Regions from separate parts of the Homo sapiens genome. Here all the other regions are linked to region 2. Evidence: fine-mapped expression QTL. A gene starts in region 2. Each other region holds a variant in brackets. All regions are shown on one strand. Distances are between the middles of the regions.

Evidence for each region. PIP is the estimated chance that this variant, and not a neighbour inherited with it, causes the effect.
Region 1: its variant is fine-mapped to the expression of MYT1L in testis (GTEx, PIP above 0.99).
Region 3: its variant is fine-mapped to the expression of MYT1L in aorta (GTEx, PIP above 0.99). The same link has a PIP of 0.9 or more in coronary artery and tibial artery.

Annotation. Positions count from the first base shown.
Region 1 is chr2:2,179,889-2,190,599 of GRCh38, forward strand. All of the region lies in intron 2 of MYT1L (myelin transcription factor 1 like), which reads right to left. Among named protein-coding and RNA genes, the nearest start is that of MYT1L-AS1, 130 kb to the right of the region's middle. The variant T/C (reference allele first, on the strand shown) is at 4,893.
Region 2 is chr2:2,325,933-2,336,643 of GRCh38, forward strand. It overlaps MYT1L (myelin transcription factor 1 like), which reads right to left and starts at 5,343. Exons shown (of 25, transcript NM_001303052.2): 1 at 5,035-5,343. MYT1L-AS1 (MYT1L antisense RNA 1) reads left to right here. Exons shown (of 2, transcript NR_024468.1): 2 at 1-1,176.
Region 3 is chr2:1,803,230-1,813,940 of GRCh38, forward strand. It overlaps MYT1L (myelin transcription factor 1 like), which reads right to left. Exons shown (of 25, transcript NM_001303052.2): 22 at 5,847-5,938. Among named protein-coding and RNA genes, the nearest start is that of PXDN, 64 kb to the left of the region's middle. RefSeq lists an enhancer at 744-1,376. The variant G/T (reference allele first, on the strand shown) is at 6,056.

The sequences.
Region 1 (10,711 bases), 150 kb before region 2:
GCCTTCACATCAAATCCCATCATTTCTCTACTCAAAGACTTTTAGATCATTCTGGCCCTCAGGAGGAGGCTGTTCCTCTGAATGATCAATGAGGTCATCCTCTCGCTGATCCGTTCATACCTTCACACACTGTTTCACACAGCCAGCCAGTGATTCCACTGTTTGCCCACTTCTGCTAATGCCACTGTTGTTATCAAAGAAACTAGGGTGCTTGAAGATGGGGATTGCACCTGTTCATTTTTGTATTACCAGGGGCCAGAGGAGAGAGAATCCATTAAATGAATGAATTGAATAACAATAATGATAATAGAGTTCACTTCACCCTCCTTCCAAGCCCCCCAAGGAACTCATGGCTCCTTGAGAGTACAGAAGATGTTTATTACTTGGTGAATTCTTCATTTGTTTAGCATAGTCCTTAGCACATAATATGTACTCTCAAATAATTACTAATCAAATGGAAAAACATAAGCTCTTAAAAAAAAAAAAAACAACAACCTGTATCAGGAAAGAAGACGAGAGAGCAAGTGATCATTTGAATCAGTGGTGCTACCTTAGGAGTGAGTGCAAGTGGCAGAGAGACAACTCGATGTGGGTGTGTGGAAACTGTGCCTGAAGGTGTATGCGAACCTGTGTGTGTACCTGTGTGTGCACCTGTATCTGTACCTGTGTGGGCCCGTGTGTGTACCTGTGTGTGCGCCTATGTGTGTACCTGTGTGTGTGCTTATGTACCTGTGTGTAGCTGTGTGTGCACCTGTATCTGTACCTGTGTATGCCTGTGTGTGCACCTGTGTGTTTTTGTATGTACCTGTATGTGCACCTGTATCTGTACCTGTGTGCCTGCATGTGTGCCTGTGTGTGTGCTTGTGCATGTACCTGTACCTGTATTTGTACCTGTGTGTGCCTGTGTGTGCACCTGTATCCATACCTGTGTGTACCTGTGTGTGCACCTATATCTGTACCTGTGTATGCCTGTGTGTGCACCTGTATCCGTACCTGTGTGTGTACCTCTGTGCTTGTGTATGTACCTGTGTGTGCACCTGTATCTGTACCTGCATGTGCCTGTGTGTGCACCTGTAACCGTACCTGTGTGTGTACCTGTGTGTGCTTGTGTATGTACCTGTGTGTGCACCTGTATCTGTACCTGCATGTGCCTGTGTGTGCACCTGTAACCGTACCTGTGTGTGTGCTTGTGTATGTACCTGTGTACCTGTGTGTGAACATGTATCTGTACCTGTGTGCCTGTGTACCTGTGTCTGTGCCTGAGTATGTACCTGTGTGTGCACATGTATCTGTACCTATGATCTATGTGTGCCGTGTACCTGTGTTTGTGCCTGTGTGTGTACCTGTGTATATCTGTGTGTGCACATGTATCTGTACCTGTGTGTACCCGTGTGCGTGCACCTGTGTGTGTACCTATGTGTCTGTGAAGTGAGACTGAAAACATGAGAGTCTACCTGGCTCTCTGTTGTCTCTGACACACAGAAACTTCATGAATGAAATCATGTTACTGATTGCTAGCTGAACTCTCCTCAATTTTCAGAGAGTCCTTGGGAAGAAAATCAGAATTCTAGCAGTAAGCCCCGCTCTTAAAATATATAGAAATTACCGTCTGTCAGAGGCTGTGGATGCAGAGTGTGATTTAAATGTGCTATGAGTTTAACTTAAAGCACAGCCACACATTTCAACTAGAAAATCCTAATGGTAGGGGCATGAGTGTACTTAAGGCCCTTCATCTGTGACAGAGTTGACCACGTGGAAGCGCTTTGTCTTCCCGGATGCAGTGCCAAGGACTGGGGGTGCTCCCCTGCTCTCTAAACCTGCAGCCTTTTCCTTCACACAGCAACCACAGGAGGGTGCATGCCGAGAAGTGAGATTCATCTGCATAAATACATCCTCCAACTAACTGCTTCCAAGTGAGAGAAAAAGGACTTTCCACGTTCCAGCACTTCCATGCTCATTATTTCATTTGATCCTCAGAACAACCCTGAGAATAGGCAACCGAGATATTATTAGCTCTATTTTCAGAGAGAAACTGAGGTTCAGAAAGGTAGCTTGCCTGAGGTCACAGAGCTGGGATGGGGACCCAGGTTTCCAGGCTGGACATTGACAAGTGTCCACCCTGGCAGTCACCTCCCAACTCCCATATGTAACAAGCTTTCAGAGCAAAAATGAATGGCATGCCCCACTCTGACTACACTGTGTCTTGGAACCATGGCCACGGACAGCACGCCCCACTCTGACCGCACTGTGTCTTGGAACTGTGGCCACGGACAGCACGCCCCACTCTGACCGCACTGTGTCTTGGAACTGTGGCCATGGAGAGGTGACCTCCTCTCTGCAGGATCTGATTTCAGTGGCTTAGGAAGGGCCTGTCCTCCAGATTGTTAGAACAGTACCCATGCCAATCGCTGAAACCCTTCCATTGGAAATCCAGTTACTTGAACACTTTTTTAAAAGAATTTACCTTTATAAGTGCAAATGATTCTGGGCTAGCTGATATTTTGAGTCACTATTGATTAAAAAGATATTAATTTTTCATGGAACAAGGAAGATGTTTGCAATAGTATGGCCAGCATCTATCCTCATTCTCTGTCCCTCTCTCACACCCATGTACCCCCCACACTCTTTCTCTCTCATTTTCAGTCTGTATTTCACAAGGAAGAAAGCCAGACAGTAGCAATTGCCTGGATTTGGATGGAGGATTTAGGGAGGGCTGGAGGCTTAGAAGCAGGCATTGCGTCGGTTTTTCAAAGCACAGCATGCGCTTTGCAGCTAACCAGAAAGGCATGCTCTCTTTTTCATTTGGCCACTGTTTGTTGTGGATGTCTCCCTTTGGGTTTTGGGGAAGGAGCAGTGGTTTGGGAATTGCTGGCTTCCTACCAAACACCACCAAAGAGCAGTGCAGTCCCAGCGCGGCCCACAATGGCAGGGACTGAGATGGATAAACATCACAGTAGATAAAGACTCGCACAGCCTGGGCCTCCAGGCAGGACAGAGTTGCAGGGGAGAGAAGGAGGGAGGTCATCGCTTCTCCTCTAAGTAAGGAAGGCTGCAACAGGGATGCCCACAGTGCTCAGGGTTACGCAGAGGTGAGCGGACTCTGCCACAGAGGTGGGGAGGTTTTCCGAGGAGCAGCAGCTGAGCTTTGAGAAGGTCATGTCATCAGGCTATGGATGGTGAGTCACAGAGGGAGATCTCCTGGACAGAAAACAGTAACACAAAAAGCATGGAGCAGTTGGAGGGAAGGGTGTGTTTGGATGGTAAGTCCTGGGGGAGCCTGAATTGTATCCCTCAGGACCCAGCGAACCTCCTGGCCTCCCCTAGAGTAGTGAAGAGCCAGGTTGCTGTTTTAGAACAGAGAGGAGGGGAAGAGACAGAGAGGAACGAACCTGGGGGAAGTAGACCACGAGAGAGCTGCTGGGGTGAAGCCTGGTCACAGAGAGGCTGCTCACCTCTGTGCAGGGAGAATAAGTTCCCACGGGAGGGGAGGAGAGAAAGGGTGGGGCCAGGCGGTAGGAAGAGAGAAGGAGCCTGGAACCAAGCCATCCTGTTTCCTAAAGCTTGCTTTGTTTCCATGACTCTAGAAGCAGTATAAAAGAAACATCCTTCCAGTGCACAAAGCTTGCAAGAGAGTAATATTATGAATGTTTGAAATCATGCTGTACTTGATGGCCCTGTAAGGTAATGATGAGGTTCTCAGTGTGATGAGGTAGAGATCCATATTTTAGCACATATTCTTCATAGTTGCAGCTCTCTGTAAAAGTTATCAGCATATGACAATTCAGAATCCCACATGTAGTTTCTTGCAAACTATATACTAGAAAAAATACTTTGGAGATATAACTAAAAGAAGGAAGGAAGGGAGGGAGGGAAGGAGGGAGAGGAAGGAAGGAAGGAGAGGAGGGAAGAAAAAAGGAAGGAAGGAGAGAGACAAAGGAAGAAAAAAGGAAGGAAGGAAGGAGAGGAGGGAAGGAAAAAGGAAGGAAGGAAGGAGAGAGACAAAGGAAGAAAAAAGGAAGGAAGGAAGGAGAGAGAGGAAGGAAGAAAAAAGGAAGGAAGGAAGAAAGGGAGGGAGGGAAGAAGAGAAAGAAAGAGAGAGAGAAAGGGGGAGGGAGAAAGAGAAAGAGAGAAAGAAAGACAGAAAGAGAGAAAAAGAAAAAGAAAGAAAGAAAAAAGGGGAGAGAGAAACAGAGAGAGGGAGGGAGGGAAAGAAAAGAAGGGAAGGAGGTAGATGGCTTGAATAATGTAGGTCATGCTGAGGCTGTTCACAATTTTAAACGTCTAAAAAACACAGCTGATATCTACCTAGAAGGAATCACTAATAAATCATACTGTTTCAATATTATCTAAATATATTCTTATTAATGACATACAAAGTAATAAATACATTACAGTGTTAATGCATGTGTGTGTTCAAGAGAAACAAGTAGAAAGTAAACACAAGACAGAGTTCGTCCCTGTAGATTCCACAGTGAAAATGTGCAGCGCCCATAAAGGTTGGGACAGAACGGACGAAGGCCCTCAGTGCTTCCAATCCACTGACGTTTATTTTCAGGCAAAGGCCCATTTTAAATACTTTCTATCAATGTTAAAATGATGAGTTTAATGTGTCAAAGTAGCATGCTTTTAAAAATTGGGGATTTTTTTCATGGGATGATTTCATCAAGTAAAAATCTCCAGGCAAAAATATCCTACACTCCAATTTGCCCAACCTCCTCTGTCCAAACAAAGGAATAACACTCATCTGAGCAAGACCTCCTCTTCCCGCCTAAGCCTCCCCGCACCGCACGCCCACCAATGGGCTGGCGGCCTCTCCAGCAGAGCCGGCAGATTTCCCCAGCTGTGGGAGGAAAGCTCTGTTCTCTTCCTGTGATGATATAAGCCTCTCCTCA[T/C]CCGTCAGCTTCAGTTGTAGGAGAGACTCCTGCCTAAATCGGTGGTTGGGGTTGGCTTGAGGTTTCCAGCTACCCAGAAAGGGACCCGCCAAGAGAGGCCGCAGCTCGGCACTTTAGCTGGCAACTGTGCAAAGCTCCACCCCATGAGTAGTTGCATTGCTTCGGGTAAGCTTCGCCACCTCTCTGGCCTTTACTTTTGTCATCTCTGAAATGCAAATAGTAATTGCGTCTACTTTAGAAGGCTTGTCAGAGGATCCACTGAGACAGCACAGCTCCTGCATTTAGAAAATGCCCTCATGCTGCAAACCTTCCAGTCACCAGCCAGCAACTCTTCCATATCCATCCAATAACTCTCTGTTCTGCACCTAATAAGCATTCCACTCTTATATACAAGCCTCCTTATAAAAGGCCTAGACTTAAAAATAATAATAATAGCAAACACATTGAAGGTAAATGGGAATGAGGGCACTTTCAACACACAAAGCTTATATAACATATTTGTGCTATTTAATTAAAATGTAACTAGTCATTCAGTACTGTGTGGTTTTTGTTACTTCCTTGTATTTTAATAGCTCTGTTCAAATATGAGTAACTCACCACAAATTGTGTGGCGTGCAAACTAATATATTCACCTGATTGGCCTCCACACGTGAGGGGGACGCAGCCGGGCCTCCTCGAGTCCCGCGTTCCTTCTGTGAGGGGGACGCAGCCAGGCCTTCCGGGCCTTCCCGAGTCCCGCGTTCCTTCTGTGAGGCGGACGCAGCCGGGCCTCCTCGAGTCCCGCGTTCCTTCCGTGAGGGGGACGCAGCCAGGCCTTCCGGGCCTTCCCGAGTCCCGCGTTCCTTCTGTGAGGCGGACGCAGCCGGGCCTCCCAGACGCCCGCGTTCCTTACGTGAGGGGGACGCAGCCGGGCCTTCCGGGCCTTCCCGAGTCCCGCGTTCCTTACGTGAGGCGGACGCAGCCGGGCCTCCCAGACGCCCGCGTTCCTTACGTGAGGGGGACGCAGCCGGGCCTTCCGGGCCTTCCGGGCCTTCCCGAGTCCCGCGTTCCTTCTGTGAGGGGGACGCAGCCGGGCCTCCCAGACGCCCGCGTTCCTTACGTGAGGGGGACGCAGCCGGGCCTTCCGGGCCTTCCCAAGTCCCGCGTTCCTTCTGTGAGGCGGACGCAGCCGGGCCTCCCAGACGTCCGCGTTCCTTCCTTGAGGGGGACGCAGCCAGGCCTTCCGGGCCTTCCCGAGTCCCGCGTTCCTTCCGTGAGGCGGACGCAGCCGGGCCTCCCAGACGCCCGCGTTCCTTCCGTGAGGGGGACGCAGCCAGGCCTTCCGGGCCTTCCGGAGTCCCGCGTTCCTTCCGTGAGGGGGACGCAGCCGGGCCTCCCAGACGCCCGCGTTCCTTACGTGAGGGGGACGCAGCCAGGCCTTCCGGGCCTTCCCGAGTCCCGCGTTCCTTACGTGAGGGGGACGCAGCCAGGCCTTCCGGGCCTTCCCGAGTCCCGCGTTCCTTTCGTGAGGGGGACGTAGCCGGGCCTCCCCGAGTTCCGCGGTCATTATGTGAGGGGGACGCAGCCGGGCCTTCCCGAGTCCTGCGGTCCTTACTGGTTAACTGTAGTCCCGCACTGTTAATGTTTTTCGTTTTTTGAAGCCAAGATAGCGTGCTCACCGCAAAAGAAATATGGACCTCGATGAACAGATAATAGGGAGAATCTCATGCACCCATCCTGGAATTACGTTTTTAGCTTTGCCCCCATCACTACCATTGGAGGGAAGCAGCTTCTGCGAGAGGCATTTGTAAAGTCTCCATGTCTCCCCAAGAAGTCACGTTCTGCAGACCCGTCAACCATCCCATGTCCCGCCACTCCCTCTAGTAAATAAGGATCCTTGGGTTTTTCTGGATGCCTACACTTACTAACTCTTGACCCAATTTTTGCATAAGCATCGCAGAATCAAAAATCTATAATTAACAGATTGTTATAAAATTCTACAACGAATAAACTCTTAAATTCCAATTCGAAAATATTGTAAACTTTGCATTATAAATTAACATGAGTGTCTGTAGCAAGGTTAAGATCAATTTATAATGTAACCTAATCTTCACCTTGGTCTTTATTGGCACTGATTTAAAAAGATCTGTGTGCAATATCATCTTCTGAAGATAAGTTCCTTTCATTTATTTCTATTTGCTCTGATCCTCCTTTTGGAAAACAAAATAAAGAATTTTTTTCTAAAAAAGGTATGATCGAAACTTGGCCTTAATGAACTTAAACAGCAATTCATCCTCACACAATCCAGTCTTTATGGATTGCAGGCCTAGGGTAAGCAGGTTGCAGGCACAGTGAGTGACAGACAAGCAAATGTCAGAGGAGATGCTCTTATATTTGGTCGTGGGCTCCCTCTTCCACCGAGGCCTTTCCTAAATCTGCCTTTGATGAGCTTCCCCCAGCCATCAGCTCTGTCCGTTCCCTCTGGAGCTGCACAGAAAGTGCTTCATGGAAATGTCATCTGCCAGGACAGCAATTACTGGCACTCCAGCAATCACGGGCACAATGCAGAGTGGGTCGAATTCAGGTGAGAGCGAGAACCCACAATCAAGCCCGGGGAAGGAGAACAAAGCCATTTTCTTTCATTCGCCGTCAACACAACCATCAGGCCTTAATTACACGGCGCGTGCGGGGCTGGCTGCTGAAAGGCATGTTATTACCCAGCTTAGTTCCAAATCAGCTCAGTATTGATGAGCGGCAGAGGGAGGAAGCCAGCCTCGCCCCCGTGGAAAGGAACAGGCACCAAACAAGCAGATGAGTGGCAGAAGGGGGCACACTCCAGGGAATTAAAAAATAATTTTAGAAGGGAGGGAGGGACCTGGTACCTAAACGCTGGCTAAAAATACGTTTCCAGAGGCCCATTGCATTCATGGCTGAATTCAACACAGGTATACCTACTTCAGCCTGGGCTGTTTAGTTGGCCAATATATCTTACTGGATAAGTTCTTGAAGCTGTTATTCTCTGCTCACAGCATTTCCCAAAGGCTCCCACAAGTCTCAATACACCTATGAGTACATTCTTTGTTCTTATCCCCAATTCTTTTTAAGCAATTTAAGAACATTCTGAAAAAAAGTTCTCAGATTATCCCTCTCTCTCCATATATATAATAAACATGTATGCATTTATCATTTATATTCTCTTATATTAAATATATATGCATATTTGCCTCTGTCTACCTTAAAATAACAAATGTTCAGTGCAAAATATTTTTTAGAGATTGGCATAATAACACTTAATGGCAAGCTCTAACATCTTTGAATAAAGCCTCTACAGTAAAAATAAATGGTTCATTTACTACTAAAAATTACACACACAAATGCATGCACACACACATACACTTCCTTCCCATGGCAAAACACCTATATTTGTGTATGAACCTAACACAAAAAGGCATATTACTCAGTATTACCGAAAGTTAATGGTAATATTGACAAACCCAAAACAACATGAATTCGGAACTGTTTTGTTTAGAATTCTAAAAACGATTCTGCTATTTGGTGGGGTGCTATGCACCTGGATGTGGAATTAAGAGGTGCATCTCCTTTCAAGCTGGGGGAACACACACTGCCAATCCCCCAAGCTGAGCTTTGATGGATGCACGAACTTACCAGCAGGCACACGCTCACGCCGATAGGAGCCGTGCACAAGCGTGTGCAGTGCTTAATGCCAAATTATGTCATTTAAGGGACCTTTACATTTCCTAATCTATTTAAAATGGCCTAGAAAATAAGTCCTGATCTGTGTGCCTGGGCTAGGTCTATTAAGAGTCAGACAGACGGCATAATGAAAGCCAGGGTGCAGCCCTAATAGGAAATCCAATGTTCTGTGTATTCCCTTCCTCTCCCTTTTTTGCCCAGGCTTTAGACTTCCTGGGGATCTGTCTCGGGCAGATGCTCATGTTTTCCAAGCTTATTGCTTATGGGAAGTGGTAGGAGTTTAAGAAAATCAGAGAGAAGAAGCTGTCATCTTGCTGACAAGCTGGCCAAATGCAGGTGGGTCAGAGTTTTGAGTGATGTGAGTTTTGAAATCCACTTCCAAGGCAAAATTAAAATACAAAAGCTTTGTCCTGCCACAGTCTGATTTCCCTAGGATAGATGGTTGCTGAAGACCTGGGAAGCTTCTCCTCTCACACATGCTTCAAGTGAGCGTGTTTACTCTGCGAGACTACAGGGAGAGGAAATTAATTTGAGCTGCTGCCGCCTTCCTCCCCAGCGTAGCCAAGAACATAGCCTCCTAACCAGCCTCTCCAATCCATTGCTTCCCCTCCAGTGCATTCTCCACACAGCAGCAGGACCATCGTTCTAAAAATGAAATTGCATCATACTATATAAGAGCTTCTGATTGCGTTTGGGGCTTCCAAAACCTGAACTCCTGGCCATGCCGCCACCGCAGCGTAAGAGGCGGCTCCTCCTCATCCCTCCTGACTCCTGTGTTGCTCACAATGTTCTCCTGGAGCAGTTCCCAAAATGGGGTTCGTGAGCCTGTGGGGGTGCCCTCCACCCTTTCATGGCCTTTCGGGGGTCTTCCCTCATGCAACTACATCATCTGTGGGGTTGGATTATCTTCAAATGCTTCAGCCAAAACAACTTATGCAATATGTTAAGTGCAGAGGCAGATGAGAATTCAGCTGCTCTATTAAGACACGCATGAAAGACATTTGCTAAATGTGAAACAATGACGCTCTTTCAATAAATGTCTTTTTTATGGAAAATATTATTTTTCATAAATATATAATCACTTATATTAACAGGTACTGGGTTTTAAAAATATTTTTAATAACTAAAAAGCAAATAATGTTTTAAAATATCTTAGTTTTAATTGTTAATGTGGTAGCTATAACTTTCATGAACAAAATCTCTGCGAGGGCTTCAGACTATTAAGCCTATGAAGAGCCCTTGTAACTGAACCTGGTGAGAAGCAGCGTTCTCAGGACCTCACGGTGAGAAGCGCATTCTCAGGACCGCACGGGGAGAAGCTCGTTCTCAGGACCGCACGGGGAGAAGCAGGGTTCTCAGGACGGCACGGGGAGAAGCAGCGTTCTCAGGACCGCACGGGGAGAAGCTCGTTCTCAGGACCGCACGGGGAGAAGGAGCGTTCTCAGGACGCACGGGGAGAAGCGCCTTCTCGGGACCACACAGTTCCTTCTTTGTGTGCACACACCGAGCTCTCCCTTCCTCAGGGCCACTGCACAGCTGGTTTTTCTGAGAGGAAGCCCAGGTAACACCTCAGTGTTTCTCCTCTCTCCCATAGGGCTCATCCTTCGCTTTCTGTATTGGCCCTGCTGTTTTCCCATGTTTAGGGCCCTGATTTTTAATATTTTCTTAATTATTTATTTACTTTTCCTCTTATTGGAAGAAGGACGGGCACAGTGGCTCATGCCTGTAGTCCCAGCACTCTGGGAGGATGAGGCAGGCAGATCACTTGAGCTCAGGGATTTGAGACCAGCCAGGGTAACATGGTGAAACCCTGTCTCTACAAAAAATACAGAAATTAGCCAGGCAGTGGCACACGCCTGTAGTCCCAGCTACTCGGGAGGCTGAGGCAGGAGGATCACTTGAGCCTGGGAGGTCGAGGTTGCAGGGAGCCGAGATCACACCAGATGGTGTAATGAGAAGGAAACCAAACTGTCTGTATGCCTATTTTTTTTTTCCCAGCCTTTAGACTTCCTGGGGATCTGTCTCAGGCAGATGTTAATATTTCTGAGCTCCAGCCTGCTGGGCCACAGAGCAAGACCTGTTAAAAAAAAAAAAAAAAAAAAAAGAAGAAGAAAGCTCACAGAAGA
Region 2 (10,711 bases):
TATTTTTGAAGTACTTAAGAGAAGAACTGGGAGCTGCAACCACCAGGCAAATTAAGAAAAAAAGAAATCCTATGTAACCTTTACAATAAAAGGAAAGAGGTACCTTTTTGTGGAAGAGCTGGTGGCCATCAAGCCAAATCCTGTTCCGCAGTCTGCTTCTCACCCACGCAGGGCTCTGTCTGCCGTGGAGAGACCATCGCACGTGCTGGTCACAGTTCCCTCTGTGTTTCCATTCCATTCACCCCTACCCTCTGGCGCCCGCACTCCACCAGCCCACTATCCACAGTGAGTGAGAGTCGAGAGCAGAACAGCACGAGGGAGCAGCCACTGCAGGCTTTCCACAGAGCACAGCTCTGACTGTGGTTTCCGTGGGGAGACTGACAGAGAAGCCCCAAGTTACCAGGAACACCCTCTTCCAGCTCTCAGAGGTAATTCCTCTGAAGACCGAGCTCTTCCCTGATGTGTTGGGACCAGACTTACTGGTTACTATAGAGGCTGCAATTCCCTTCCCATCGAGCCCTGCTAGACACCACTGCAGTCTGAAAGCAAGGAAAGCTTTAAGAGAATGTCCTGTACCATTCCATCTTCTCACAACACAATACTCCTTACAGTAAGACTAAAATATTCCCCCCCGCCAACTTTTCCAATAATCACCACGTGGGGAGCAGAGATTATTTTAAAAGAGGTACATGGTAGGAAAATTTTCCTAGCAGAACAGCCTAATACAGCAATGCTTATCACTCTTTCTCTATCTAATAAATAAGCATTCATGCATTCTTTCTAGTTTTATAACACCTGGCTTACATTTTCTCTGCCATCTCTGATTACTTCTACAGATACCCTGAGGACTCATTATGATGTCAAAGCCAAAAACACTTCCATTGTAGAAACATGCATAGAAAAATCACTGTGTATGCTTGAACAATGCAGGTGTGAAAGAAACACAGAGAGAAGAGAGGGTGGCAAAACAGACAAACAGGGACCAAGTTAAAGAGAGAGGGGGCAGAAGAGAGAGAAAGGAAAGTGGAGAGAAAGAGAGAGAAGAGACAAGACACAAAGATATTACAAACAGAACCACATTGCATTGAAATAGCCCACTGATGGAAAAAATGGATAGCTGTTGCCTTTAAATAATCTAATATCAGAAAAAATCATGCAATAAAATACTATAAAAGTAGAATATTTGTATTATTTCATATGAGTTATGGTCACTATAGGCAATATTTTAAATATTGGGGTGGTATGTCAATTTAAAATATCTTTTTCATACCAGCAACCATGATATGTAGATATGACACTGCCCCCAACCACACACACACAAACACAAACCTACATCTATTTACTTCTTCAAGTTTGTGGTATCTTTTGTCTTCAGTTTTGTTTGGAAGAAATGCAGATCAATGTCAGGTGTTGTGTTGTGGTACAGAATACAGTATGATGAAACTTAGCTTGGTGAAAAATATGTTATTTGCAAGTTTTTGTTCAAGTTTATCCTCAGTTACTCCTTTCTAAAGAATACTACACAACTTTTCAAATAAAAAAGAAGATATTCAAAAAAAGAACTCTTAAAAACTTGAAATAGGAAAATGCATAACATCATTGCGCTCAAATTACGCTATGGAGTAATTAGATTATAAAAATTTACCAAAACTGTAGATCTCTCTTTCTGAGTCTACCATTCATTTGCCTCCTGAACAGAGTTCTGGTGAGACTTTGCATCAAGGTAGACTTCCTGGCAAAGGACAACATGCATTGGAAACACTGGTTATTGATTGAAAATTATAGCCCTGGTCTAAAAGGGACACCCAGCCAAACCAAACTGTAAGTGCAAAGCAGAGTGGTCATTATCAAAGAGCATCTGACTAGTCCCTCTAATTCCACAGAGGAGTTTTTTTTAATATAAAATATTTAAGGGTAAATAAACCTTTAAGTTGTTTGAAGTTAAAATGTATCCACTAAAATATATAACAAGTAAACAAAGTCTTTCAGATTGTATATTATGTATTTCTAAAATAATGTCTCTCCCTCAAATTAAATTGGCTTACAGGTAGAGTTGGAAATCTAGTTTATGCATGTGACTTTGAAAACATTATTTACTTGACAAAATTAATTTTTCACAGAGAAGTAATTGGCTTTTAAAAATTATAAATGTAAAGTATTTATAAAAGCAGCTGAACAAATAATCAGATTATTAACTCAATTTTTTAATTTTAAGTATAATTGTAACAAATAGAAAAACTTTACAAATCTTTGAAATTGCATAATCACTTATTTCTTTTCCCTAATCTATTAAACATTGACACAGAAAGCAGACAGAAAACATCAGACAGTGAAATAATTGGGTATATTCAAGAGTAAGGTACAAAATAGAAACATTTTCAAGAGAGTAAAAAATAAATAAATAAATTAGGTGAAAAACATAACAGGGACAGTGAAAACAGCATATTAAAGAAGTCTCATTCTCTGAAACTATCCACATAGTCCTAAGGTCATGCTTTGACAGCTTTTATAACCCCGAAGAAGACTAGGTACTCATATTCCTTTAATAATTTTTGTACACCACTCATATGTGGTCACAAATCATTGGGCCTTTACCTTGATCTCAGCTTCTAACACAAATTTGTGAAATTGGCATAAGTTCTGCTGTTGGATGCAAGTTTAACTCAAGAGAAGTTGAAATTTGTGTGTCATGCATACTTTCTACCTTACTGTGACACCAGATAGTCCTGGTGCATCTTTTCAAAGATGAATTTTATTAATAATTACATGTATTTGGATAAAATTTTCCAGTTGAAAAGTAATAATGTTTACAATTTTCCAACCCACAACTATACATATATACAAGTAATTTTTAACATATTGATATGTTTGAATATTTGGAAATAGAGTAAAATATGTGTATAATGGCAGATGGAAAGTCTTTACTAAATAAAAATGTTCAAGTATAGATATCTTTGCTGCCACCATCTTCAAAACATCCAAATGTGACCATGAAGGCTTCTCCTACTTCTACCTCAACTAGCACAATCATTAAGGTGATGAAAGTGAGCCATTTTCACATTGCCAATAAACTAGGAGGAAGTCAGTCACTGTTGAATGCAATCGCTATCAGCTGCGGACAGCTCCTGGTGCTGAAAGGGAAGGCAGAGAAGCCTGCTCACAATAGCTCACTCCACCAGCCTTTGAAAAATCACAGCAAAACTGAATGAGGTGGCAAGTGCTCAGCCTGAATAGCACTGTCTACAGAACAATGGCAGCCAACTCTAAATCCTACTATAATCACATTAATGAGATTAATCAGTGAATTAGCAGCAGTCAAATGTCAGGGAGGCAAGGAAGAATCCAACCAAGATTGGTAATTAACTTTTTGTGGGTGGGGGTGGGGAGGAGAGAAAAATCAACTGTGCTATCTCATAGGTTTTTTTAGATGTTGATAATTTTGATTCACGAATCTGAAGACTATATGTACAGATCAAAAGACAACAACATAATCCTTCATATTATAATATAGATCCAGATCTCATATTACTGATTCTTATAGTCCTCTGAGAAAGCTGATGTCACTTTAAATAATCTTCATAATCTATCAGAATTTTATTGTTTTAAATTCTTTAAATGCACAATTAATATTTAAAATAAACTTATTTCTCTGAAAATCAAGCTAAAATATAAAGAAATATGGCTGATTAAAAGCAGAAGGATTATATAACAACTGTTATTGTTTATGAAAAGTGTATGATAGTATGGTAAGAGTTTTCAAAGTGCAATCAAGTAAAGTACCATCACACACACACATCAGTAGTGGTCTATGTTAGTTAATAAAGAAAATTTATCACTCAAGTATAACTTTAAGGAGACTTTTAAGCAATTAACTTACTGCATTTGAGGTGATAGAATCATACATGTTCTTTTAGGTCAATCAGAAAAAACAAACTTCCTTTTTTTCTGGAATGTTTCTCTTAGTAGCATTTATAACTTACAATCAACACTTTGGATTCAAAGTTCTTGAGAGGTGAAAACTTATAGGAATGCAATGCTGTTTTTTTTTTTGAAAAGGAATATTTTATAAAACTCTTTTCTTTTAAAAATAATTACATTTTTATCTGTATGGGAGACATGACTTTATTATTTTTAAAGCTACATGACACTAAATGAAGATGAACAATTAGAAAGACCCTCATATGCCAGTAAGGGTGGTTTTGGGATGCTTTGGTCTATGACGTTAATTTTGTTTAGTAGAAAATATAAACATTTGAACAAAAAGGCTCTTATATAAAATAGTTTTACTCTAAGTAACTTAGAAATTATTTAGCTTATATAGCTTTGATGGTACAAGAAATTGTCATGGTTAATACTAAATTCAAAATCTGTTCTCTATATTTTATATAGCTAACTTTCATATAAATATTTACATATATATTTTTGCTTTATTCAGATCTATCTTAAAACTAAAGTGTAGAGTTTAATCTTTTAGTTTATTAATTTAGGTGTTACAAAAAGACATATTTCTGTTATAAATAACATTTTCTTTCATTATTATGAACTTCAAACATTTAAGTTAAATTTAAAAATCTTTATTTGAGTTTCTCCACTTAAACAATATAAATCAACTTTCTTCTTACCATCAGGTAAATTCATCCAAAATAGCTAACATTTTAATTGCCTTTGCATAAAATGATGTGCTTCATTTGTAATGTAAAGTAATCCAGTAAAGTCTCTGGGAAGTTTTTGTTTCAGTATCCTCTTATCCTCCAAACACCATACATGCACCCCGTTTTGTTTTTGTTTCTTTTTTTCTTAATAAACAACATCACAGTTAAGTCATGCAACCTAATACCCATTTTAGTTTAAAGACAGATTTTTTTGTGGATTACAAAGCCTCCAGTCCAGGAACATTTCAGCTACCAGCCATGCTGTAAAAATAACTTTAAAAAGGAGCAGACAATGGAATAGCAGCCTCAGCCCTTGAGCTACGGTAAAACACATCCTGCTCACTAAGTTCCCCGAAAAATTAACCTAACGAACATCACGTACCTCACAATGACCACAACCGCTCACAAGCGAAAGACAAGTTCAATTTTGGTAACTGTGCTGGCTCAAAATACACAGACAGGGAAGAAAACCCTGTTCCACCACAAGTTTGAAAGGATGATGAGACACATGCATGCCACCAAGACGCAGAAAAGGTGGCTTTTTGTCTTCAGTGAGTATGGATATCATAACCCATAGTCCAGGGAATGAAAAAATTAAAATGCACCCACCAACAATGAGCAAAAAACCCGGGGTGCTTCAACAAGACTGCAGGGAAAAGCTCTCTCACTGTTTAGTGTGCAGTAGCTTAGGGAAAAAAAAAATGTCGCCCGGGCAGGAATGACAAATGCAGCGCGATAGGCTCGCAGGCCTCAGGGATCTGTTTGACTTCCACACACCCCCATGCACACGCTCCCACTCATCCTCTCCTAGGCTTTTTTTTTTTTCCACATTTTTTTTTCACAAGCTCCAAATCCCCGGCATATGACCTTCTGTTAAATAGATAAAAAAAAAAATTGCTTATCAGTCATGCAAATGAGGCTGAATTCATTTTCCACAACAGATGGCCTCATAGATAATGATGATGGAAGAGAGAAAATTGAATGTCTCTCACAAGGTGGCCATGGCAACCGAGAGCAGAATAATATCAATAATAAACTCACTGCATAATAAGGTTGTCAGTCCTACAAATCAAAGTCTCCAGCTAAATCAGGTATACCACCCCAGCTAGTTACCAGGTAAATAGTACACACACACACACACACACACACACACACACACACTTCCACAGAGTGGCTTGAAATCTTTCATGGTCACTGTAAAATGTGTACGTGTGTGTGTCTGTTGGTGGCAAGAAGGGGTTGGGGGAGAGAATAGTTGGATAATGAAATGACAATGTGACTTTTTTCTTTTCCTTTCCTTTCATTATGTTTTCTGCAATAGACTCGGTTTCATGCAGGACCTTCTAACTAGCCATATTGAAATCGGGATGCGGTGCTGAAGGCTTTCTCTCCTCCCTCTGCCTCCGCGCTCTCGCTCTGATGTGCTGCATTGATGCAATAGCAGCTCGCCTCAGGCTTCCACCTTGGCTCCCAGGGGGACATCCTGCAAAATGAATCAGCAGCCATCCTGAGCAGGCTGATTAAAATGAAAATGGCAAGGCACATGTCTGGGCGGAACTGGAGCTCAGCTTTGCTGCTTGTCTGGCAAGCATGCTCAATATAGCTCTTGCTAATAATGGCTTACTGCCTTTCATTTTTTAAAAAGGTATCACCCTTTTCCCCCTTCACTGACTGGTGTTGTCTGTGTGTGTGTGTGTGGTGTGTGTGTGTGTGTGCACGTATGTGTGCGTGCATGTCGCGGGGGGAAACGAGAATGGATGGTTCTATTCTTCTAATTTTCTGCTGCTCACATGCAGACTGCCTGCCTGACAGCACCATTATTTTAACACTGAACTTACTTCAGCTTTTCTTTTGGGACAGGGTGGGGGGGCGGTTGATAAGTCTTGGGGCAGAAGGGCTAGTTTTAAAATCAAGCTGCCTAAAAGGCCCAGACAAGATTTTTACACTCCAGATTCAATAATTTCTAACCAAATCTGAAGCAACAGACCTCGAGAGAACTCCGATGCTCTGCTTCACAGGCTCACAGTTGGACATGCTGAAACACAGCCTATGAAGAAACCTATTTCTGTTTCGAGCATTTGCAACCAGCCTGTTACTGTATCCTAGATATTATGCAACACAGAGAATTAAAACAGAGAAAGCTACTAGCTAATAAAATAATCGAACACAATTGAAAAAATAAATCTTGGATATTTTGTTGTTTAAAATTCTCAGGCATAGCTTCAAGATTGCCCTCAAATAAGCTTTACTTTGCAGCACCTCTGCCGAGTATTCCAGGGTTTTTCAAGGCATTCTGGAAATTAGACCATTATCACCTCTCAAAAAAATGGTTGAAAAATTAGAACGAATAATTTTTCTAAACTCATTTTACTCTACTTCTCCTATACATCTTATTCTATGTTATAAACAGTCTTTAAATTTTGCTAAATTGTCAGTTTTGCTTTCCTTTGGTAACAGATGCTTGATTTTTGTATAAAACTATCTATCTACTTATTTTTGTCTTTGTAATTCCTGTTTCTGAGACGTGATTTTTTTTTCTTCTGAGCTCTAGCCCTGTTGCTGCAGTGTGAATCAGAAATCAATAGCGCTGCCCTAATGGAGACTCCACTCGGCACGCGGCAAGGCAGCTGCAGTCTCCTCTCTCTCTTTCTCTCTCTCTCTTGCACACACACACACACACACACACACGGAACTAATGACGTCTGTGCAGCTTTTTCAGCTGATTGGGCACCACATCGGATGTTCTGTGGAGCAAAGAATAGGAGTCATTTACAGTCGGCGGAAAAAAAATGGGAGCATATATCCTTCTGTGTGTAAGACACTGATCCTGAGCTCCCCAGGCAAGCAGCATGTGGGTAAGGACGGTTCTTCGTGTTGTGGTCACCACGGGGTAAAGAGCGCCTCCAAAATGATTATAGAACTGGAACTGCAGTACAGTGGGAGTATTTGTCCATTTTGTAAAGGACAAAGCATTCCTCTAAAAAAAAAGTGAGCACAATAAAATTCCCACGCAAATGCGAGTGTTTAGGTCAAATCGTGACCTCCTGGGTATTATTTAGGCGTTTACATATACATTATATTATTACTTCCAAGGAATTCCAAATGTACTTAAAAAAATAAAGTTCAAATTAAATGAATATATATGTATGTACACACACATATATACACACATATTCATGTAATCATTCCCTATGAGTTTATCATAGTTGTGTTAATAATAAATTCTTAGTTAAAATTCACCCCCACATACCTTACCTTACATTAAGAAGAAAGAAATCTGTAAATAATACTGACACAATATTTTAAATCACAGATTTATACATGTATATGTTTTTCTTACACATTTGTGCATGTCTATGAAAACAGAATGTATATTTGATATGGGGCACCTGCACACACACACGCAGGCACAATATTCTTTCAACAGCTTTGGTTACCTTAAGCTGTAGGTGTAACTCACTGCAATGACAGGCTGCTGTGTTGATAAGCATAGTATCTAATGTTTTACCCTTAAGGTAAGGCATCCCTGGACCCAGCAGCATTAAAGAACACGTCTTCCCTTACCACACTGTCACTGCATTTCATTCAACCTCATCGTGTTGACAACAACTGCCCCAGCCTGAATCGGGCTCCAGTGAAGCATTTGTATTCTTTCCACCCATTCTCTGCATGACTTTTAGAGCTGAGATACCAGCCCTCAAATGGCTCAAGAGAAGAGGAAAAATGAATGAATCATGAAGCCACAGAGCCACAGCAGAGCAACACTGCAGTCTGCATTTTGCAGTTACATTGTAGCTCACTTGATACAGTATGATTTCTTCAAAAATGATATCGAGTACTCTGCAGTAAGGTACCATAAAATCCTTTATGATGTAGAAGAACTGGGGAATACTCAAATGACCATTTAGATTAAAAATCTGTAGTTTGCGATTAAACCGTATAACCAAATGTTTTGTCTCTAAGTATCTGTCACCTGCCTCCTTAAATTATTTCTAATATATTTTGTACTTCATGTATTAGTTTATTCCACATGTTAAAGCCCTTGGTATTAGGAAATACATATGTCATTAATTTTGTTTATTTATGTATGTATTTATTTATTTGTAAGAGAAAAGAAATTGGAACATATTGCCACTTCTAATGGGTATGTCCTCCAATTTAGTACAAAGAAAAAAAGCCCATATAATTTTTTGTGTGGAAATACACACAAGTTATAACCTAGGATGTATTTCCAACTGTAGGATACATATGCTGATCACTTTAACAAACGATAGATTGATCTCTCATAGTATAGAAAGTTCAATCTCTTTCCTTTCTGTTCTCTGGACTCTGGTCTCATCATGAGACCAGAAACAAAAAGGAGCCGTGACGTTTCTTCAGGTGCCATGTTGCACACCAGGTGAGGAGCCGGGAACTAGACCTTCATGGAAAGCATGACGATGACTTCATGACCTTTTCTTCAGAATTATGTCTGCACCAGTGATGGAGAGCTGTGACATCTAAAGGGAGTCTGAGATTAATTTAGGTCTGGAGCAAACAGCATAGAATTGCTATAGTTGGGTAGTAAATTGGTAAAACCTGGAATCCAGATATTACTATATCAGAGTGTACACTATGCAAAATCAGGCACTAACATAGCCCTCCGCCACTGTATTGGGGAACAACTTTCCAAGTTAGCTATATATCAGAGAGGGGGTGGTTTATTAATTTATCAATGATAAGGATGGGGAACCCATTTTCATTACAGGGAATTAGCTTCAACTAATCAAAACATCTATAGAGTGACTCAATAGCAAATAGATAAAAGAAATAAGGTGTTGGTGGTTAATTTGCTAAATAGAATAATGAGAAAGAAATTTAGGAGACATATCATGAAGAAGAGCTGAGGTATCAAGAATAGTTGTGGTCAGATAGAATTTGGTTGTGTAATCTCGGTGAAATGACTGGACCACAAGGGGTAGACCATGAACCTCAGAGCTCATGCGTTATTTTTGCAGCTATCCCAGGCTGACCATTCTATTCAGTATAAACCCATATTAGGGGAGTCTGGAGCAGGTAGAGTTGAAAACATCTGTATTCAGATCACTTGGCCTGATTTTATAGAACTGGTTATTTATTGGCAAAATATATAGATATAAATATGAAATATAATTCTGAGATCTAAAAGAGCATTGAGAATTTAAGATGTAGGTAAGGGGTGCCCAACCCCAGTCCATGTCTCTTAGGGACTGGGCCGCACCACAGGAGGTGAATGGTGGGGAAGTGAGCATTATTGCCTGAGCTCCGACAAGTCAGTGGCGACATTAGACTCTCATGAGAGTGTGATCCCTATAGTGAACTGTGTGTGTGAGGGATCTAGGTTGTGTGCTCCTTATGAAAATCTAATGCCTGATGATCTGAGGTGAAACACCTCCCCACCCCGACACGTTCTGTGGAAAAATTGTCTTCCATGAATGAAACCAGTCCCTGATGCCAAAAAGGTTGGGTACTGCTGGTTTAGATTATTATAACCAGCAAACTAAGATAATCTATAGAAGGTATTTATTCTACTCAAAGTCTATAATTTTATAAAATGTCTGCAATTTTGTGAAAGTAAATACCTTTCATTTCACCCTCAGTGGCCCAATAAATTCAAAAATACGCATATTGCAACAAAACTTTCCACATTACCTGCACACCCTTGAGACTCAGTCTCTGAACTATTTTGCATCTGGGGTTTTTATATCGCATTTCATTTCTTTGTGCTATCAGGTTAGTATCTGCAATGATTCAAGCTATTTGAAGAAAGGGACTTATGCCTTTTAGCTTATGAGTACATAGGAATAGTGCTGGTCTAAATCAGGTTCTCAATAAGAATATTTTTATTTATTTTTATAATTAGCTTATGGGTCTCATCCCTGAAGTTAAAAAAAAAAGCCACTTACTTTATTCAAAATTATATTTTTCTTCACTGTACAGAAAACAGTAATAATTATCATGCTCATTTAGAAGAGTTTTGGTGCTGAAAATCATTCAGAAAAGAGAATCTAGAAAAAAACATGGAGGCAGAGAAGACGATG
Region 3 (10,711 bases), 520 kb before region 2:
CGTATCATTTCAGAAGCATTCCCCACAAGCTTCTGTTAAACTGCAAGCATCCAAATGCCTTTAGAACACCTCCATGTGAAGGAGGCCCTCAGAACACTGGACGTGGTGAAGCTTCGACCCTCTACAGCTGTCACAGGCAAATTTCTCAAGCACATTCCTAGGAATCCCATCTCGCAGAGGCCTTTCAAAAACCTTGGACTGGGATGCTTAGTTTGAAGAATTCATGATAAATGTCAAACTAACTGGCCTATCAGGCTTTGTTATCTAATTGATCTGCCAGATCAGGTCAACTGTTCTGACAGAAGTCAGTGTCATTTTAAATCCAAATAAAAGTCTTGATACGGGTCCCATGACAACCTTTCATCTCTAATTTTGTTCTGGGAGTGATGGATGGGTGGATATTACTTCCATAGCTCTGCTCTGTCCTGGGGGACCACCCTCAGGCCCAAGTGGTCACCAACAGCCCTTTGTGGGAGCCTGGGAACGTCTCAGTCCTGGGGCTGCCCACTGCGGCTCTGTGCAGCATGCCATTCCTTTGTAAGGGGGAGGAGGGAGACAGGGAAACGGTGCCAGGAAGAACCGGCAGGTCACAGAGCATTCCCGGCCCATGAGATTCTGTAGGACGAGGGTATGTGGAAGAGGAGGGCCTGCAAACTGATTCTGTAGAGCTGTCCACAGCCACATTCCTGGGACATCCTGCGAGCCCCCAGGCACGTGCGCCTCGGCGTGAAGCCCCCTCAGGGAGAGGAGAGCTCTGGGTTGGGTGGGAATTCTCCTTATCCCTGCAGCAGGGCAGTGACTGGCCCAGGAAGCAGTCCCTGGGGTTGCTGGGGCCTCTGAGCTGAGCCTCACTTTGTGGATGGTTAGGCTGGAACTAGGGTTTTTTTGTTGTTGTTGTTTGTTTGTTTTGAGATGGAGTTTGCTCTTGTTGCCCAGGCTGGAGTGCAATGGCGTGACCTTGGCTCACTGCAACCTCCACCTCTCGGATTCAAACGATTCTCCTGTCTCAGCCTCCTGAGTAGCTGGGATTATACGTGCCTGCCACTACACCCGGCTAATTTTTGGTATTTTTAGTAGAGATGGGGTTTCACCATGTTGGCCAGGCTGGTCTTGAACTCCTGACCTCAGGTGATCTGCCCACCTCAGCCTCCCAAACTGCTGGGATTACAGGCGTGAGCCACCGCGCCCAGCCACAACTAGGGTTTTATAATACATTCCACCAGTTGGCCTGCAAGCTGTCAGGAGAAACTGCCTTTATAAAAAACTGGCCTGAGCAGGGAGGGCCCAGCCAAAAAGCAGCATCTCAGAGCCAGAAAATCCACCCACTGGACACCAAAGCAAAGAAGCAAACAAATCCTACTCAAATTAGCATAGCGTGGTCCTGGAAGATTTTGATTTACTTCAGGATCCTGGTAGCTCTTGAGAGACCAGTGTCCCATGGTGAACCCAGCCAGCGCTGGTCACTCTCACTAATGGCTTGGTGGAATTTCCATGCCTCCTGGAATTTCCTTTTCCTTACAGCTGAATAGAAACGTGAGTTCCCACAGTTTGGAGCTCTCAGGAATATTAAGCGAAATAAGTAGGTGAAGTTCCTGACAAAGCGCTTCATGTTTTCAGGGCTTGATGGAGGTTAGAGCTCCTTTCCCTAGCTTGCTTTCTGCTGTGATAGTAAAAGGAAAGAAAAAGCATTATCTTATTTCCTTCTCTCCTAAACACTGCCCCTGCCCCCACTACCCGCCAAAAAGCCACTGATGGTACAACTTCAGCCAAGGTGCCAAGGTGCTAAGAGGCATACAGTGAACTTCTGCAAAAGGGTTCTGAAGGGAGACTCACTAACAGCCACGCCGGCTGCTCAGGCAGAGCTGAGTACTAATGCGTGATGAGATCACTCCACGGATAAAGAAAATAAGGTGATCCTTGTTGGGCAGAGACATGAGAGCAGGCTCATCCCTAAACTTAAAAAAGAAAGAAAGAAAAATACTTTAGAGCCAGAAGGGAACCTCAAGGACATTTAGAATAGCTGCTTCCCTTTCAGACAAATGCTCAAGAGAAAGCGCTAAAATCCAGTGCCAGGGTCCTTCTTGGCCGAGTCAGTGCCTCACAGTGGATTCCGGTGGCTTCTCTGTCCCACACAGTGTCTGGGCCTCACATGGAGGGAAGCTGCTGCGCACTCTTGTTACACTGAAGGTATAAAAATGACCCCAGGAAAGGCTTTACACTCAGGATATGAAAGAAAAGAAGGCCGGGCATGGTGGCTCACGCCTATAATCCCAGCACTTTGGGAGGCTGAGGTGGGCAGATCGCTTGAGCTCAGGAGTTCAAGAGCAACACAGGGGGCAACATAGTCAGACCTCATCTATAGTAAAATATTTAAGGCCAGGCATAGTGGCTTACACCTGTAATCCCAGCACTTTGGGAGGCCGAGGGAGGTGGATTGCTTGAGCTCAGGAGTTTGAGAGCAGCCTGGGCAACATGGCGAAGCCCCATCTCTACCAAAAATACAAAAATTAGCTGAGTGTGATAGTGCACATCTGTAGTCCCAGCTACACAGGAGGCTGAGGTGGGAGGATCGCTTGACCCTGGGAGGCGGAGGTTGCAGTAAGCCAAGATGGTGCTACTGCTCTCCAGCCTGGGTGACAGAGCGAGACCCAGTCCAAAAAAAGAGAGGGATTGTCTTTTCCACATCTACAGCAAGGGCAACAGGAACACAGAGCTTCAGATGCAAAGAATGGTACCACAGCATCAGGAATTGGATGCTGTGCCTCTGTCCCCTGAAGAGCATCAGGAATTGGATGCTGTGCCTCTGTCCCCTGAAGAGCCGCAGGAATTGGATGCTGTGCCTCTGTCCCCTGATGAGCAGCAGGAAAGGTCCCTGGACCCTTCCTGGATTAGCTACACAGACATGGAAATGATGCCTGGGCACACAACTGTGCTCTGGGGGTAAGAAAGAACTATCTCAGTTTGGTGCAAACAGTGTCAGGAATCGACAGCCCCAGGCATCAGCACACACTTGGACTTAGGAAGACCCACTTCCACCACCTGTTCTCCCAGTGACCTGCAGCTCCTCTTTTTTACCCATGGACGTGCGTGCATTAGGATCTGCAGCAAGGGGAACTGTTTGTCCTAAAACTTAGCACAACACGAACTGTGTGTCTAGAAACTTGGGTGAAATGCAGCGACCTGGCTGAAGGCTGCCCAGCAGCAGCAGCTGGGCCCAGCGGGCGGACGGTGGCCCTGGAATGCCCGTGTCCCGGCTGCTTTCTGGTGGGATGACACCCAGTTGTTGGTTCCTCTAGTTTAGAGTCACAGACCAACTGCTTATCTTTATCCCTCCGAGTTAGCACCTGTTTTTGTGAATTAACTCCTTGTGTGCAGCAGTAATAGGAATGTCTAGTGCCCTCAATGCCGACTCAGGCCCACCGATGAAGAGATGGCCACCTCAGGGATCTGCCCACCGCCGCCCAGGTGGACCAGCCCAGGTGTGAATGGCCCCTCCTCTAGGATTGGCAGATCTGTTCTCTCCGTATTTTCTTTCCTTTTCTGTTTTGAACTGGCCTACCTAACCTAACCGCCACTTCCTTCATTAATGGGGAACAAAGGCACGTGGACTCGGATCAATTGTCTAAGGATTTCCACTTTAATCCAGGGTTATTCGGGGGTGAAATGCCCTCTAAGTATTTTGAAAAGCGCCCGGCATGCAGATGGGGCTTAGGGAATGTTTTCTTTCTGGCAAGGAGCACTGCTCCGTAATAACTAGAAAGCGAAAGTTGGCTATCCTGGTGTCTCAAAAGCGGGGTCCTTACACTGGCTGCTTGGGACTGCATCCACAGGGAGAGGTTGTGAGGGTGGGTCAGGGTATTCTGGAAGGCAGAAACTGACAGGAGCAGCCTGGGAGACAGGAGCAGCCTGGGGGACAGGATGCCTCCAGGAGCCCCAGACCTTGAGGACCAATGTCAAGAAGCTGATGACCTTTCTGGTGAACAATGGGCCACATGTTGAGGAATAGTTTGTACTGGCTGCTGGCAGAGGGAGTCCTGCAGGTACACACACGTGGGACGTTCAGGCGTCTCTCATGCTGTCCTCAGGACCACCAATAACAGTCAGATGAGAGGAGACCCCCGTGGCTGTGGCCAGGGGCTTCATGCCTGCATGCTTGGGAGCTGCTCAGGTGTGGCTCACTCTTGGTGGATTTGGGGAGGAGGTGCCCTTTGGTAAAGGTACAGCAGGAGGGTGCCAGGTTCTGCCCAGGTTCAGCTTTGTAGGGTGGATCTGTGCATCATAGGTCTGGGAGCCTTCAGCCCAGGGCATCCGTGCTTTGTGGTGCTTGAAGAGGTTTGCAGGCTCCATTTAGAAATACAAAATTAGGGGTGCATCTTGCAAGTGAAAGCTGAGAAGGGGAGGCTGGGCTTCTGCTGTGAAGGGGACCAGTCTGCTCAATGGCTACAGGTTACAGCTGATCTCATTATTCCCAGGAGCCATGTGCTATAAAGTTACTGCACACAGGCTGAGAGCAGAATCACTGCTTTTGGAAACAAAGGGCCAAGCTCCTGCCACCCTCTGGTCCCATTTTTGTCAATCGATCAATAAAAAACCCTGTTAATATGGTTTGGCTGTGTCCCCACCCAAATCTCATCTTGAATTATAGTTCCCATAACCTCCACGTGTCGTGGGAGGGACCTGGTGGGAGGTAATTGAATCATGGGGGTGGTTACCTCCATGCTGTTCCTGATACTGAGTTCTCATGAGATCTGGAGGTTTTATTAGGGCTTTTCCCACTTTGCTCTGCACTTCTCTCTCCTGCCGCCATGTGAAGAAGGACACATTTGCTTCCCTTTGCACCATGATTGTAGGTTTCCTGAGACCTCCCCAGCCATGTGGAGCTGTGAGTTGATTAATCCTCTTTCCTTTATAAATTACCCAGTCTCGGGTATTTCTTCATAGCAGTGTGAGAATGCACGAATACACCTGTTTTATGTGTGCTCCCATTTAAAGACAACCTATTTAATAGATACTGTGGATTCCTTAACATAGAAACTCCCAGCCAACAGTCACAACCATGACTCCTGTCTGAAGGGAGCTTGGCTAGCGTGTGTTTTCTCTGTGAGGCACATCACAGCCCCCTGCCCTTAGGAACACCAGACACTTCAGCTGCTCTGCGAGTGCACAGGACTAACTACAAAAGCACTGAGATCATTGCCTGCGTCTACAAATTAATTTCGGCAGGGAGGTGACCTCGCAAATAGAGTCCCCAGATCATGAGGGTGGACTGTGGATGTTTCTAAGGGCTTAAGTGGCTCTCCTCTCTCCTGCTCCTCCAGAGGCCCCCAGTTTTCCTCTGCAGAACTCTCTACACACCTGTGCTGGTTGGTGACAAGAGAGACCCTCAGAACAAAACAGATTTGCAGGTGGAATCAAGAAAATCAGGCACCAGACATGCAGAGAGTGAGGGCGACAGGGGAGGGGGTGCCATCCTTGTTATCTGTGGCCTGGGGTGGCCCCAAAGCTGCTCCTGGGTGGAGAAACCCTGGATGAGGGCCTGAGGGACACAGGCAGAAATGTGGGCACACTGGGGTTCCAGGGAGTAAATCGTCCAGTGCTGGAGAGACCCTCAGGACTTGGGCTCATGATTCCGGTGAGCAGTGAAATCGGTGAAGGTGGGAGACGGTTTTGAGAAAGACTGCTTTTTCTCAAGTTGCTTCGCTTTATAGATGAGAGGGCCAGAATTATCTCTGCCCCTGCTTTCTAAGAAAAGTGAGCTGTAACTGTCAAAGGACACACAGCTGGCATGGCCGTGCCCGCTGGGCCTTCCTGACCATGGGTGCCACGAGGGCTGGAGGGGTGCTCACCGTTGCTGGCCCGCTGTTTGATGGTCAGCATCTGCTCTCCAGAAAGCTTTGCCTTCTTCATCGCTGACGTGGCTCTCGGGCATCCTGACAAGCTGTGGACAAGACACAGGACGGCCATTAGTCAACTGTCTAATGTCCCAGCCCTGCAGGGAAGTGGTGGTAAGCAAGGCGTAGAATAGCATTATTAGGTTGGTTGCCAGCAAAAGGCT[G/T]TCTGAAAATGAGAAAAAGCAAAAAGACCAATGCATACAGTATGACAGTTATGCACACATGGGGTGCATGTGTGTGCACTCATGCATGTGGTGAGCACTGATCATGGGTGCTCGGCTGGGGCTGCCTCTTGGCGGGGGGTCTTGGGAGCTGGGGCTCTGAGAGCAGAGGAAATCTGCCCTTCATTGTATAACTTTCAGAGCTTTTTGGAACTTTTGTAGAGTGATAATATTGCTTAAAAATCTTTATTATGGAAAGCATCAAGCTCATAGAAAGGTTGGGTTTAAAAGTTAATTTCAAATATACAAAAGTAGAGACAGCAGAATAATGAACTCACCCCAAATTCAGCTGTTATCTCTCAAGGCTAGTCACCTGTGCCCCTCCTGCTTCCCCAGTCTCAAAGGTGAAAACATAACTGCAATCTCCTTATCTCACTTACAATTTTTAGCCAGTTTTCTAGTATCAGCAGCTATTCAGTCTGTTTTCAAACTTTCCAGGTGTCTCTTCACTTTTCTCAGCCACTGGTTTGTCGACGTCAGGATGCGTCTCAGCTCTTCACAGTGTATGTGGCAGATGTGGCTGGCAGCCTCCGGGGCAGGAAGGCACCTCTGCCTCCTTTTCTGTCCTGTTGGGTGTTTGCTGAAGATGGCGTGTCCTGTGTGCGGAGCGCCTCTTCCATGCAGTCCCGTGCCTCGGCTTCCTCACAACTCCTCAGTCTCCGAGGGGCCTTCCCTCCCTTCCAGGGGCTCCTGGACGTGCTGGTCAACTGGAGTCCTCACTGTGCTAAAGGCCAGGGGCCATCTGGCACTTAACTATGGGTGAGGTGAAAAACTTCTATATATAACGCTTTTTTTTTTTTTTTTTGAGAGGGTCTTGCTCTGTCACCCAGGCTGGAGTGCAGTGGCCCGATGTCGGCTCACTGCAGCCTCTGCCTCCTGGGTTCCAGTGATTCTCCCGCCTCAGCCTCCCGATTACAGAATTATAGCCTCTGGGATTACAGGTGTGTGCCACCACACCTGGCTAATTTTTGTATTTTTAGTAGAGACAGGGTTTCACCATATTGGCCAGGCTGGTCTTCAACTCCTGACCTCAGGTGATCTGCCCGCCTTGGCCTCCCAAAGTGCTAGGATTACAGGCATGAGCCACCGCACCCCGCCTATAATGTTTTATATATGTATATGACATATGTGTTTATTCTCTCTATACATAATATTGTATTTCACCTGTATATGAAGTGTTAGATGGACCGTGTCCGTAAGTGGTGTGATGATGTGTTAGTGATATATCTAGAAACACTCTTTACTAGTGCAGGCAGATTACATCATTATTAGAAATATCTCTAATATCTGCATTAATATAATTAAGCTTTCTAAATATTATTTTTGTAATACATTTTCTTTTAAAATTTAAGAAAACAGGAAAATTCATAGCAGAAGAACTTGATCGTAATACATTTTCAACTGGGGATATTAGTGGTTGTTTTTGGGGAAATCCTATCTTTGTATAAAAATATTTCCAGTATTCTTCATCCACACCACAGGTCTAAGTTGTTATTTTTTTGATGTGATGTTTGCATCTCATAATTATAATAGAATATTCATAAAATTCTAAATAATCATTGCTGTTGCCTGACTGTGTCCCCTGAAAACTCGTGCACTGAAATCCTGACCCCCACCGGGATGGTGTTAGGAGAAGGGGCGTATGGGAAGTGAGGAGGCCTCGTGATGGGATCCGTGCCCTTATAACAGGGACCCAGACAGCTCCTTAACCCCTTCTCCCATGTGAGGACAGAGTGAGAAGGCGTCGTCCACCAACCAGAGAGCAGCAGTTGCCAGATGCCGAATCTGCTGGTGCCTCGGTCTCGGACTTCCAGTCTCCAGAACTTGGAGGAATAAATTTCTGGTTTCTATGCTGCCCAAGGTATGGTATTTGTTTTTGCAGCCCTGGAACGTCTAAGACAATCACCAGTATTTGTTGCTCATACCACAACTCTGTGGCTGTGAACTGCTGTGTTTGCTGATGATGTTCCTAGGTTCAGTGGGAGAAGGAGCAGCGGGGACTTTAACCCCAGCGTCATCAGCTCCAGCATCATCAGCTCTGGCGTCATCAGCTCTGGCGTCATCAGCTCCAGCATCATCAGCTCCCGCGTCCTATCCCATCCCAGGGCAAGCCGCACGGGAAGCCCCAGGAGCAGAGAGGCCTCTGGGAACTGGGTGGCCTGACAGGGTGGGCACGGTGGGCGCCCTGGCTTCTCCTGCTTGCCCTGACTGCATCCCCAGGAATCCGGACAGTCCCTGAGGGGGTCCTGGCTCGTGGTTCCCTTTGCTGTTTTTTTGTTCATTTATTTGTTACTAGACATTGGCACTGCTGCTTCTGATGGATCCTCTCACCCTGCCTGCTGCTGTTTACACCGGAAATCCCTGTGCTACTCAAGCTGTCTTTAGTGTGGGGCGTGAACGAACCCCTCGCGTTCCGGAGGGAACAGGCTCCTCTTCAGTCCTCCCTGATGGGGCCTGGGCAACAACCTGGCAGTCGTCCCCACTCCGGGGCACCCTCCTGGGTCTTCTCCTGCCTCCCCATCAGATCCCAGCAGGACGCCCTGCAAATCCGGCTGGGGTGGGGGCTGACACTTCTGCTTCCCTAGCTTATCCGTAAATCTGCTTCTGAAGGCGAGCTGGATATTTTCATTTGTAAAATAAGAAGTTCTCAAAAGATCTGTTAAGGCTCTCCTAAAATAGGATGCTTGGATGTTAACGCCACTTTTCCCCTTCCTGCCACTGGACACACTGTGGCTGTCACACACATCTTCCTGCAGGTGTGTCTGCGCTTTGGCCCCCGCATCCAGGTAGACTCTGCAGTCAGGTGACTACATCTGGCAAGTCCTTTGTGAGACCAGGAGGCCCACTGGACCTCACACCGCACCCCCTGATGCTCTAACGCACATAAGACGTGGAACTGGCTAGGAAAGACTTAGGCAGTCCTGTTTGCTCACTTATGAAATGAGAATAAAATATTGAATTGACTGTGTTTGTGAAGTTTAATGAAAAGAATGTGTATTCTTGAGGGCAAGGATTAAAATGCACTTTTTTGTTCACTGCTCTGTATCCCCATGATGGGAGAGTGCTGGAGATGGAATAGGTGCCCAGTGACGACTTCTGAAAGCATAAAATGTCTGAATGCACTTTGTGATGGCTCAGTGAGTGGAGGCCCAGGGTGAGTGTGAGTGCACCCAGGCTCTGGAAGGTGCAGACTGAGCCCTCAAAGAGGCCTGCGGCAGGATTTTGCAGGACTTCCAAGTTAAGAGAAGACTCTTAGCCGGGCGCGGTGGTTCATGCCTGTAATCCTAGCACTTTGTGAGGCCGAGGCGGACAGATCATGAGGTCAGGAGTTCCAGACCAGCCTGGCCAACATGGTGAAACCCTGTCTCTACTAAAAATACAAAAATTAGCTGGGCGTGGTGGCAGGTGCCTATAATCCCAGCTACTTGGGAGGCTGAGGCAGGAGAATCTCTTGAACCCGGGAGGCAGAGGTTGCAGTGAGCCGAGATCGCACTGCTGCACTCCAGCCTGGGTGACAGAGCAGGACTCCGTCTCAAAAAAAAAAAAAAAAAAAAAGACTCTTGAATGCAGCTGCCGCCCTGGGTTAAGATGAGAGGAGGGCTGGGGTGAGGGCCTCCTGCAGAGGTCCTAAGACTGTGACTGTAGGACAAGGGTGACGCCTGGTCGGTCCACGGTGCGTGTGGCCCAGCCCGGCTCAGTATGATCCTCACAAATGCAGGGAGCAGCTCCCATCTTTCCCCCGCTGAACCTCTCTGGCCTTCCGCCGTCTGAACCTCCGCAGCCCTTTCGACTTTCCCTGTGTTTGCGAATGGCATTGAGGGGCCAGGAGCTGCAGGTGGGGGGGAGAGAGGGAGGGCCACAAAGGCACGCCTCCTCCTCCTTGCCGTCCTCCCAGCGAGCAGCCTCTGCTGTTTGCGCCTGAACCCCCTCCCTTCTCTTCATCACTTCAGTCCAGGTCTGTGCTTCTTTCTCCCTCAGCGAGGCCCCTGGGCCTCAGCCTGGGTCCCATCCGTTCCATCCCACAGCTGAGAAATGGCCCCAGGGGCACAGCTGTGATTGCCCCCACTCCCCCAGGAGAGCTTCCAGCAGCTTCTCTGAGAGCAGCTGCCGATGCTGGAATATTTCCTAGAGCAGGGGTCCCCAAACTCCCGGCCGTGGCCTGTGAGGAACCGGGCCGTACAGGTGGAGGTGGGCAGTGGGCGGGCGAGCATTCTCACCTGAGCTCCGCCTCCCGACACGTCAGCGGCGGGATTCGATTCTCCCAGGAGCGCAAACGCTACTGAGAACTGCGCCTGCGAGGGGGTCCGGGCTGCGGGCTCCTTAGAAGTTAATCCTGGTGATCCCAGGTGGAACGGTTTCATCCAGAAACCATCCCACCCCTTTTCTGTAGAAAAATTAGCTTCCGGCCGGGCGCGGTGGCTCACGCCTGTAATCCCAGCACTTTGGGAGGCCGAGGCGGGCGGATCACGCGGTCAGGAGATCGAGACCATCCTGGCTAACACGGTGAAACCCCGTCTGTACTAGAAATACAAAAAATTAGCCGGGCGTGGTAGCGGGCGCCTGTAGTCCCAGCTACTCGGGAGGCTGAGGCAGGAGAAT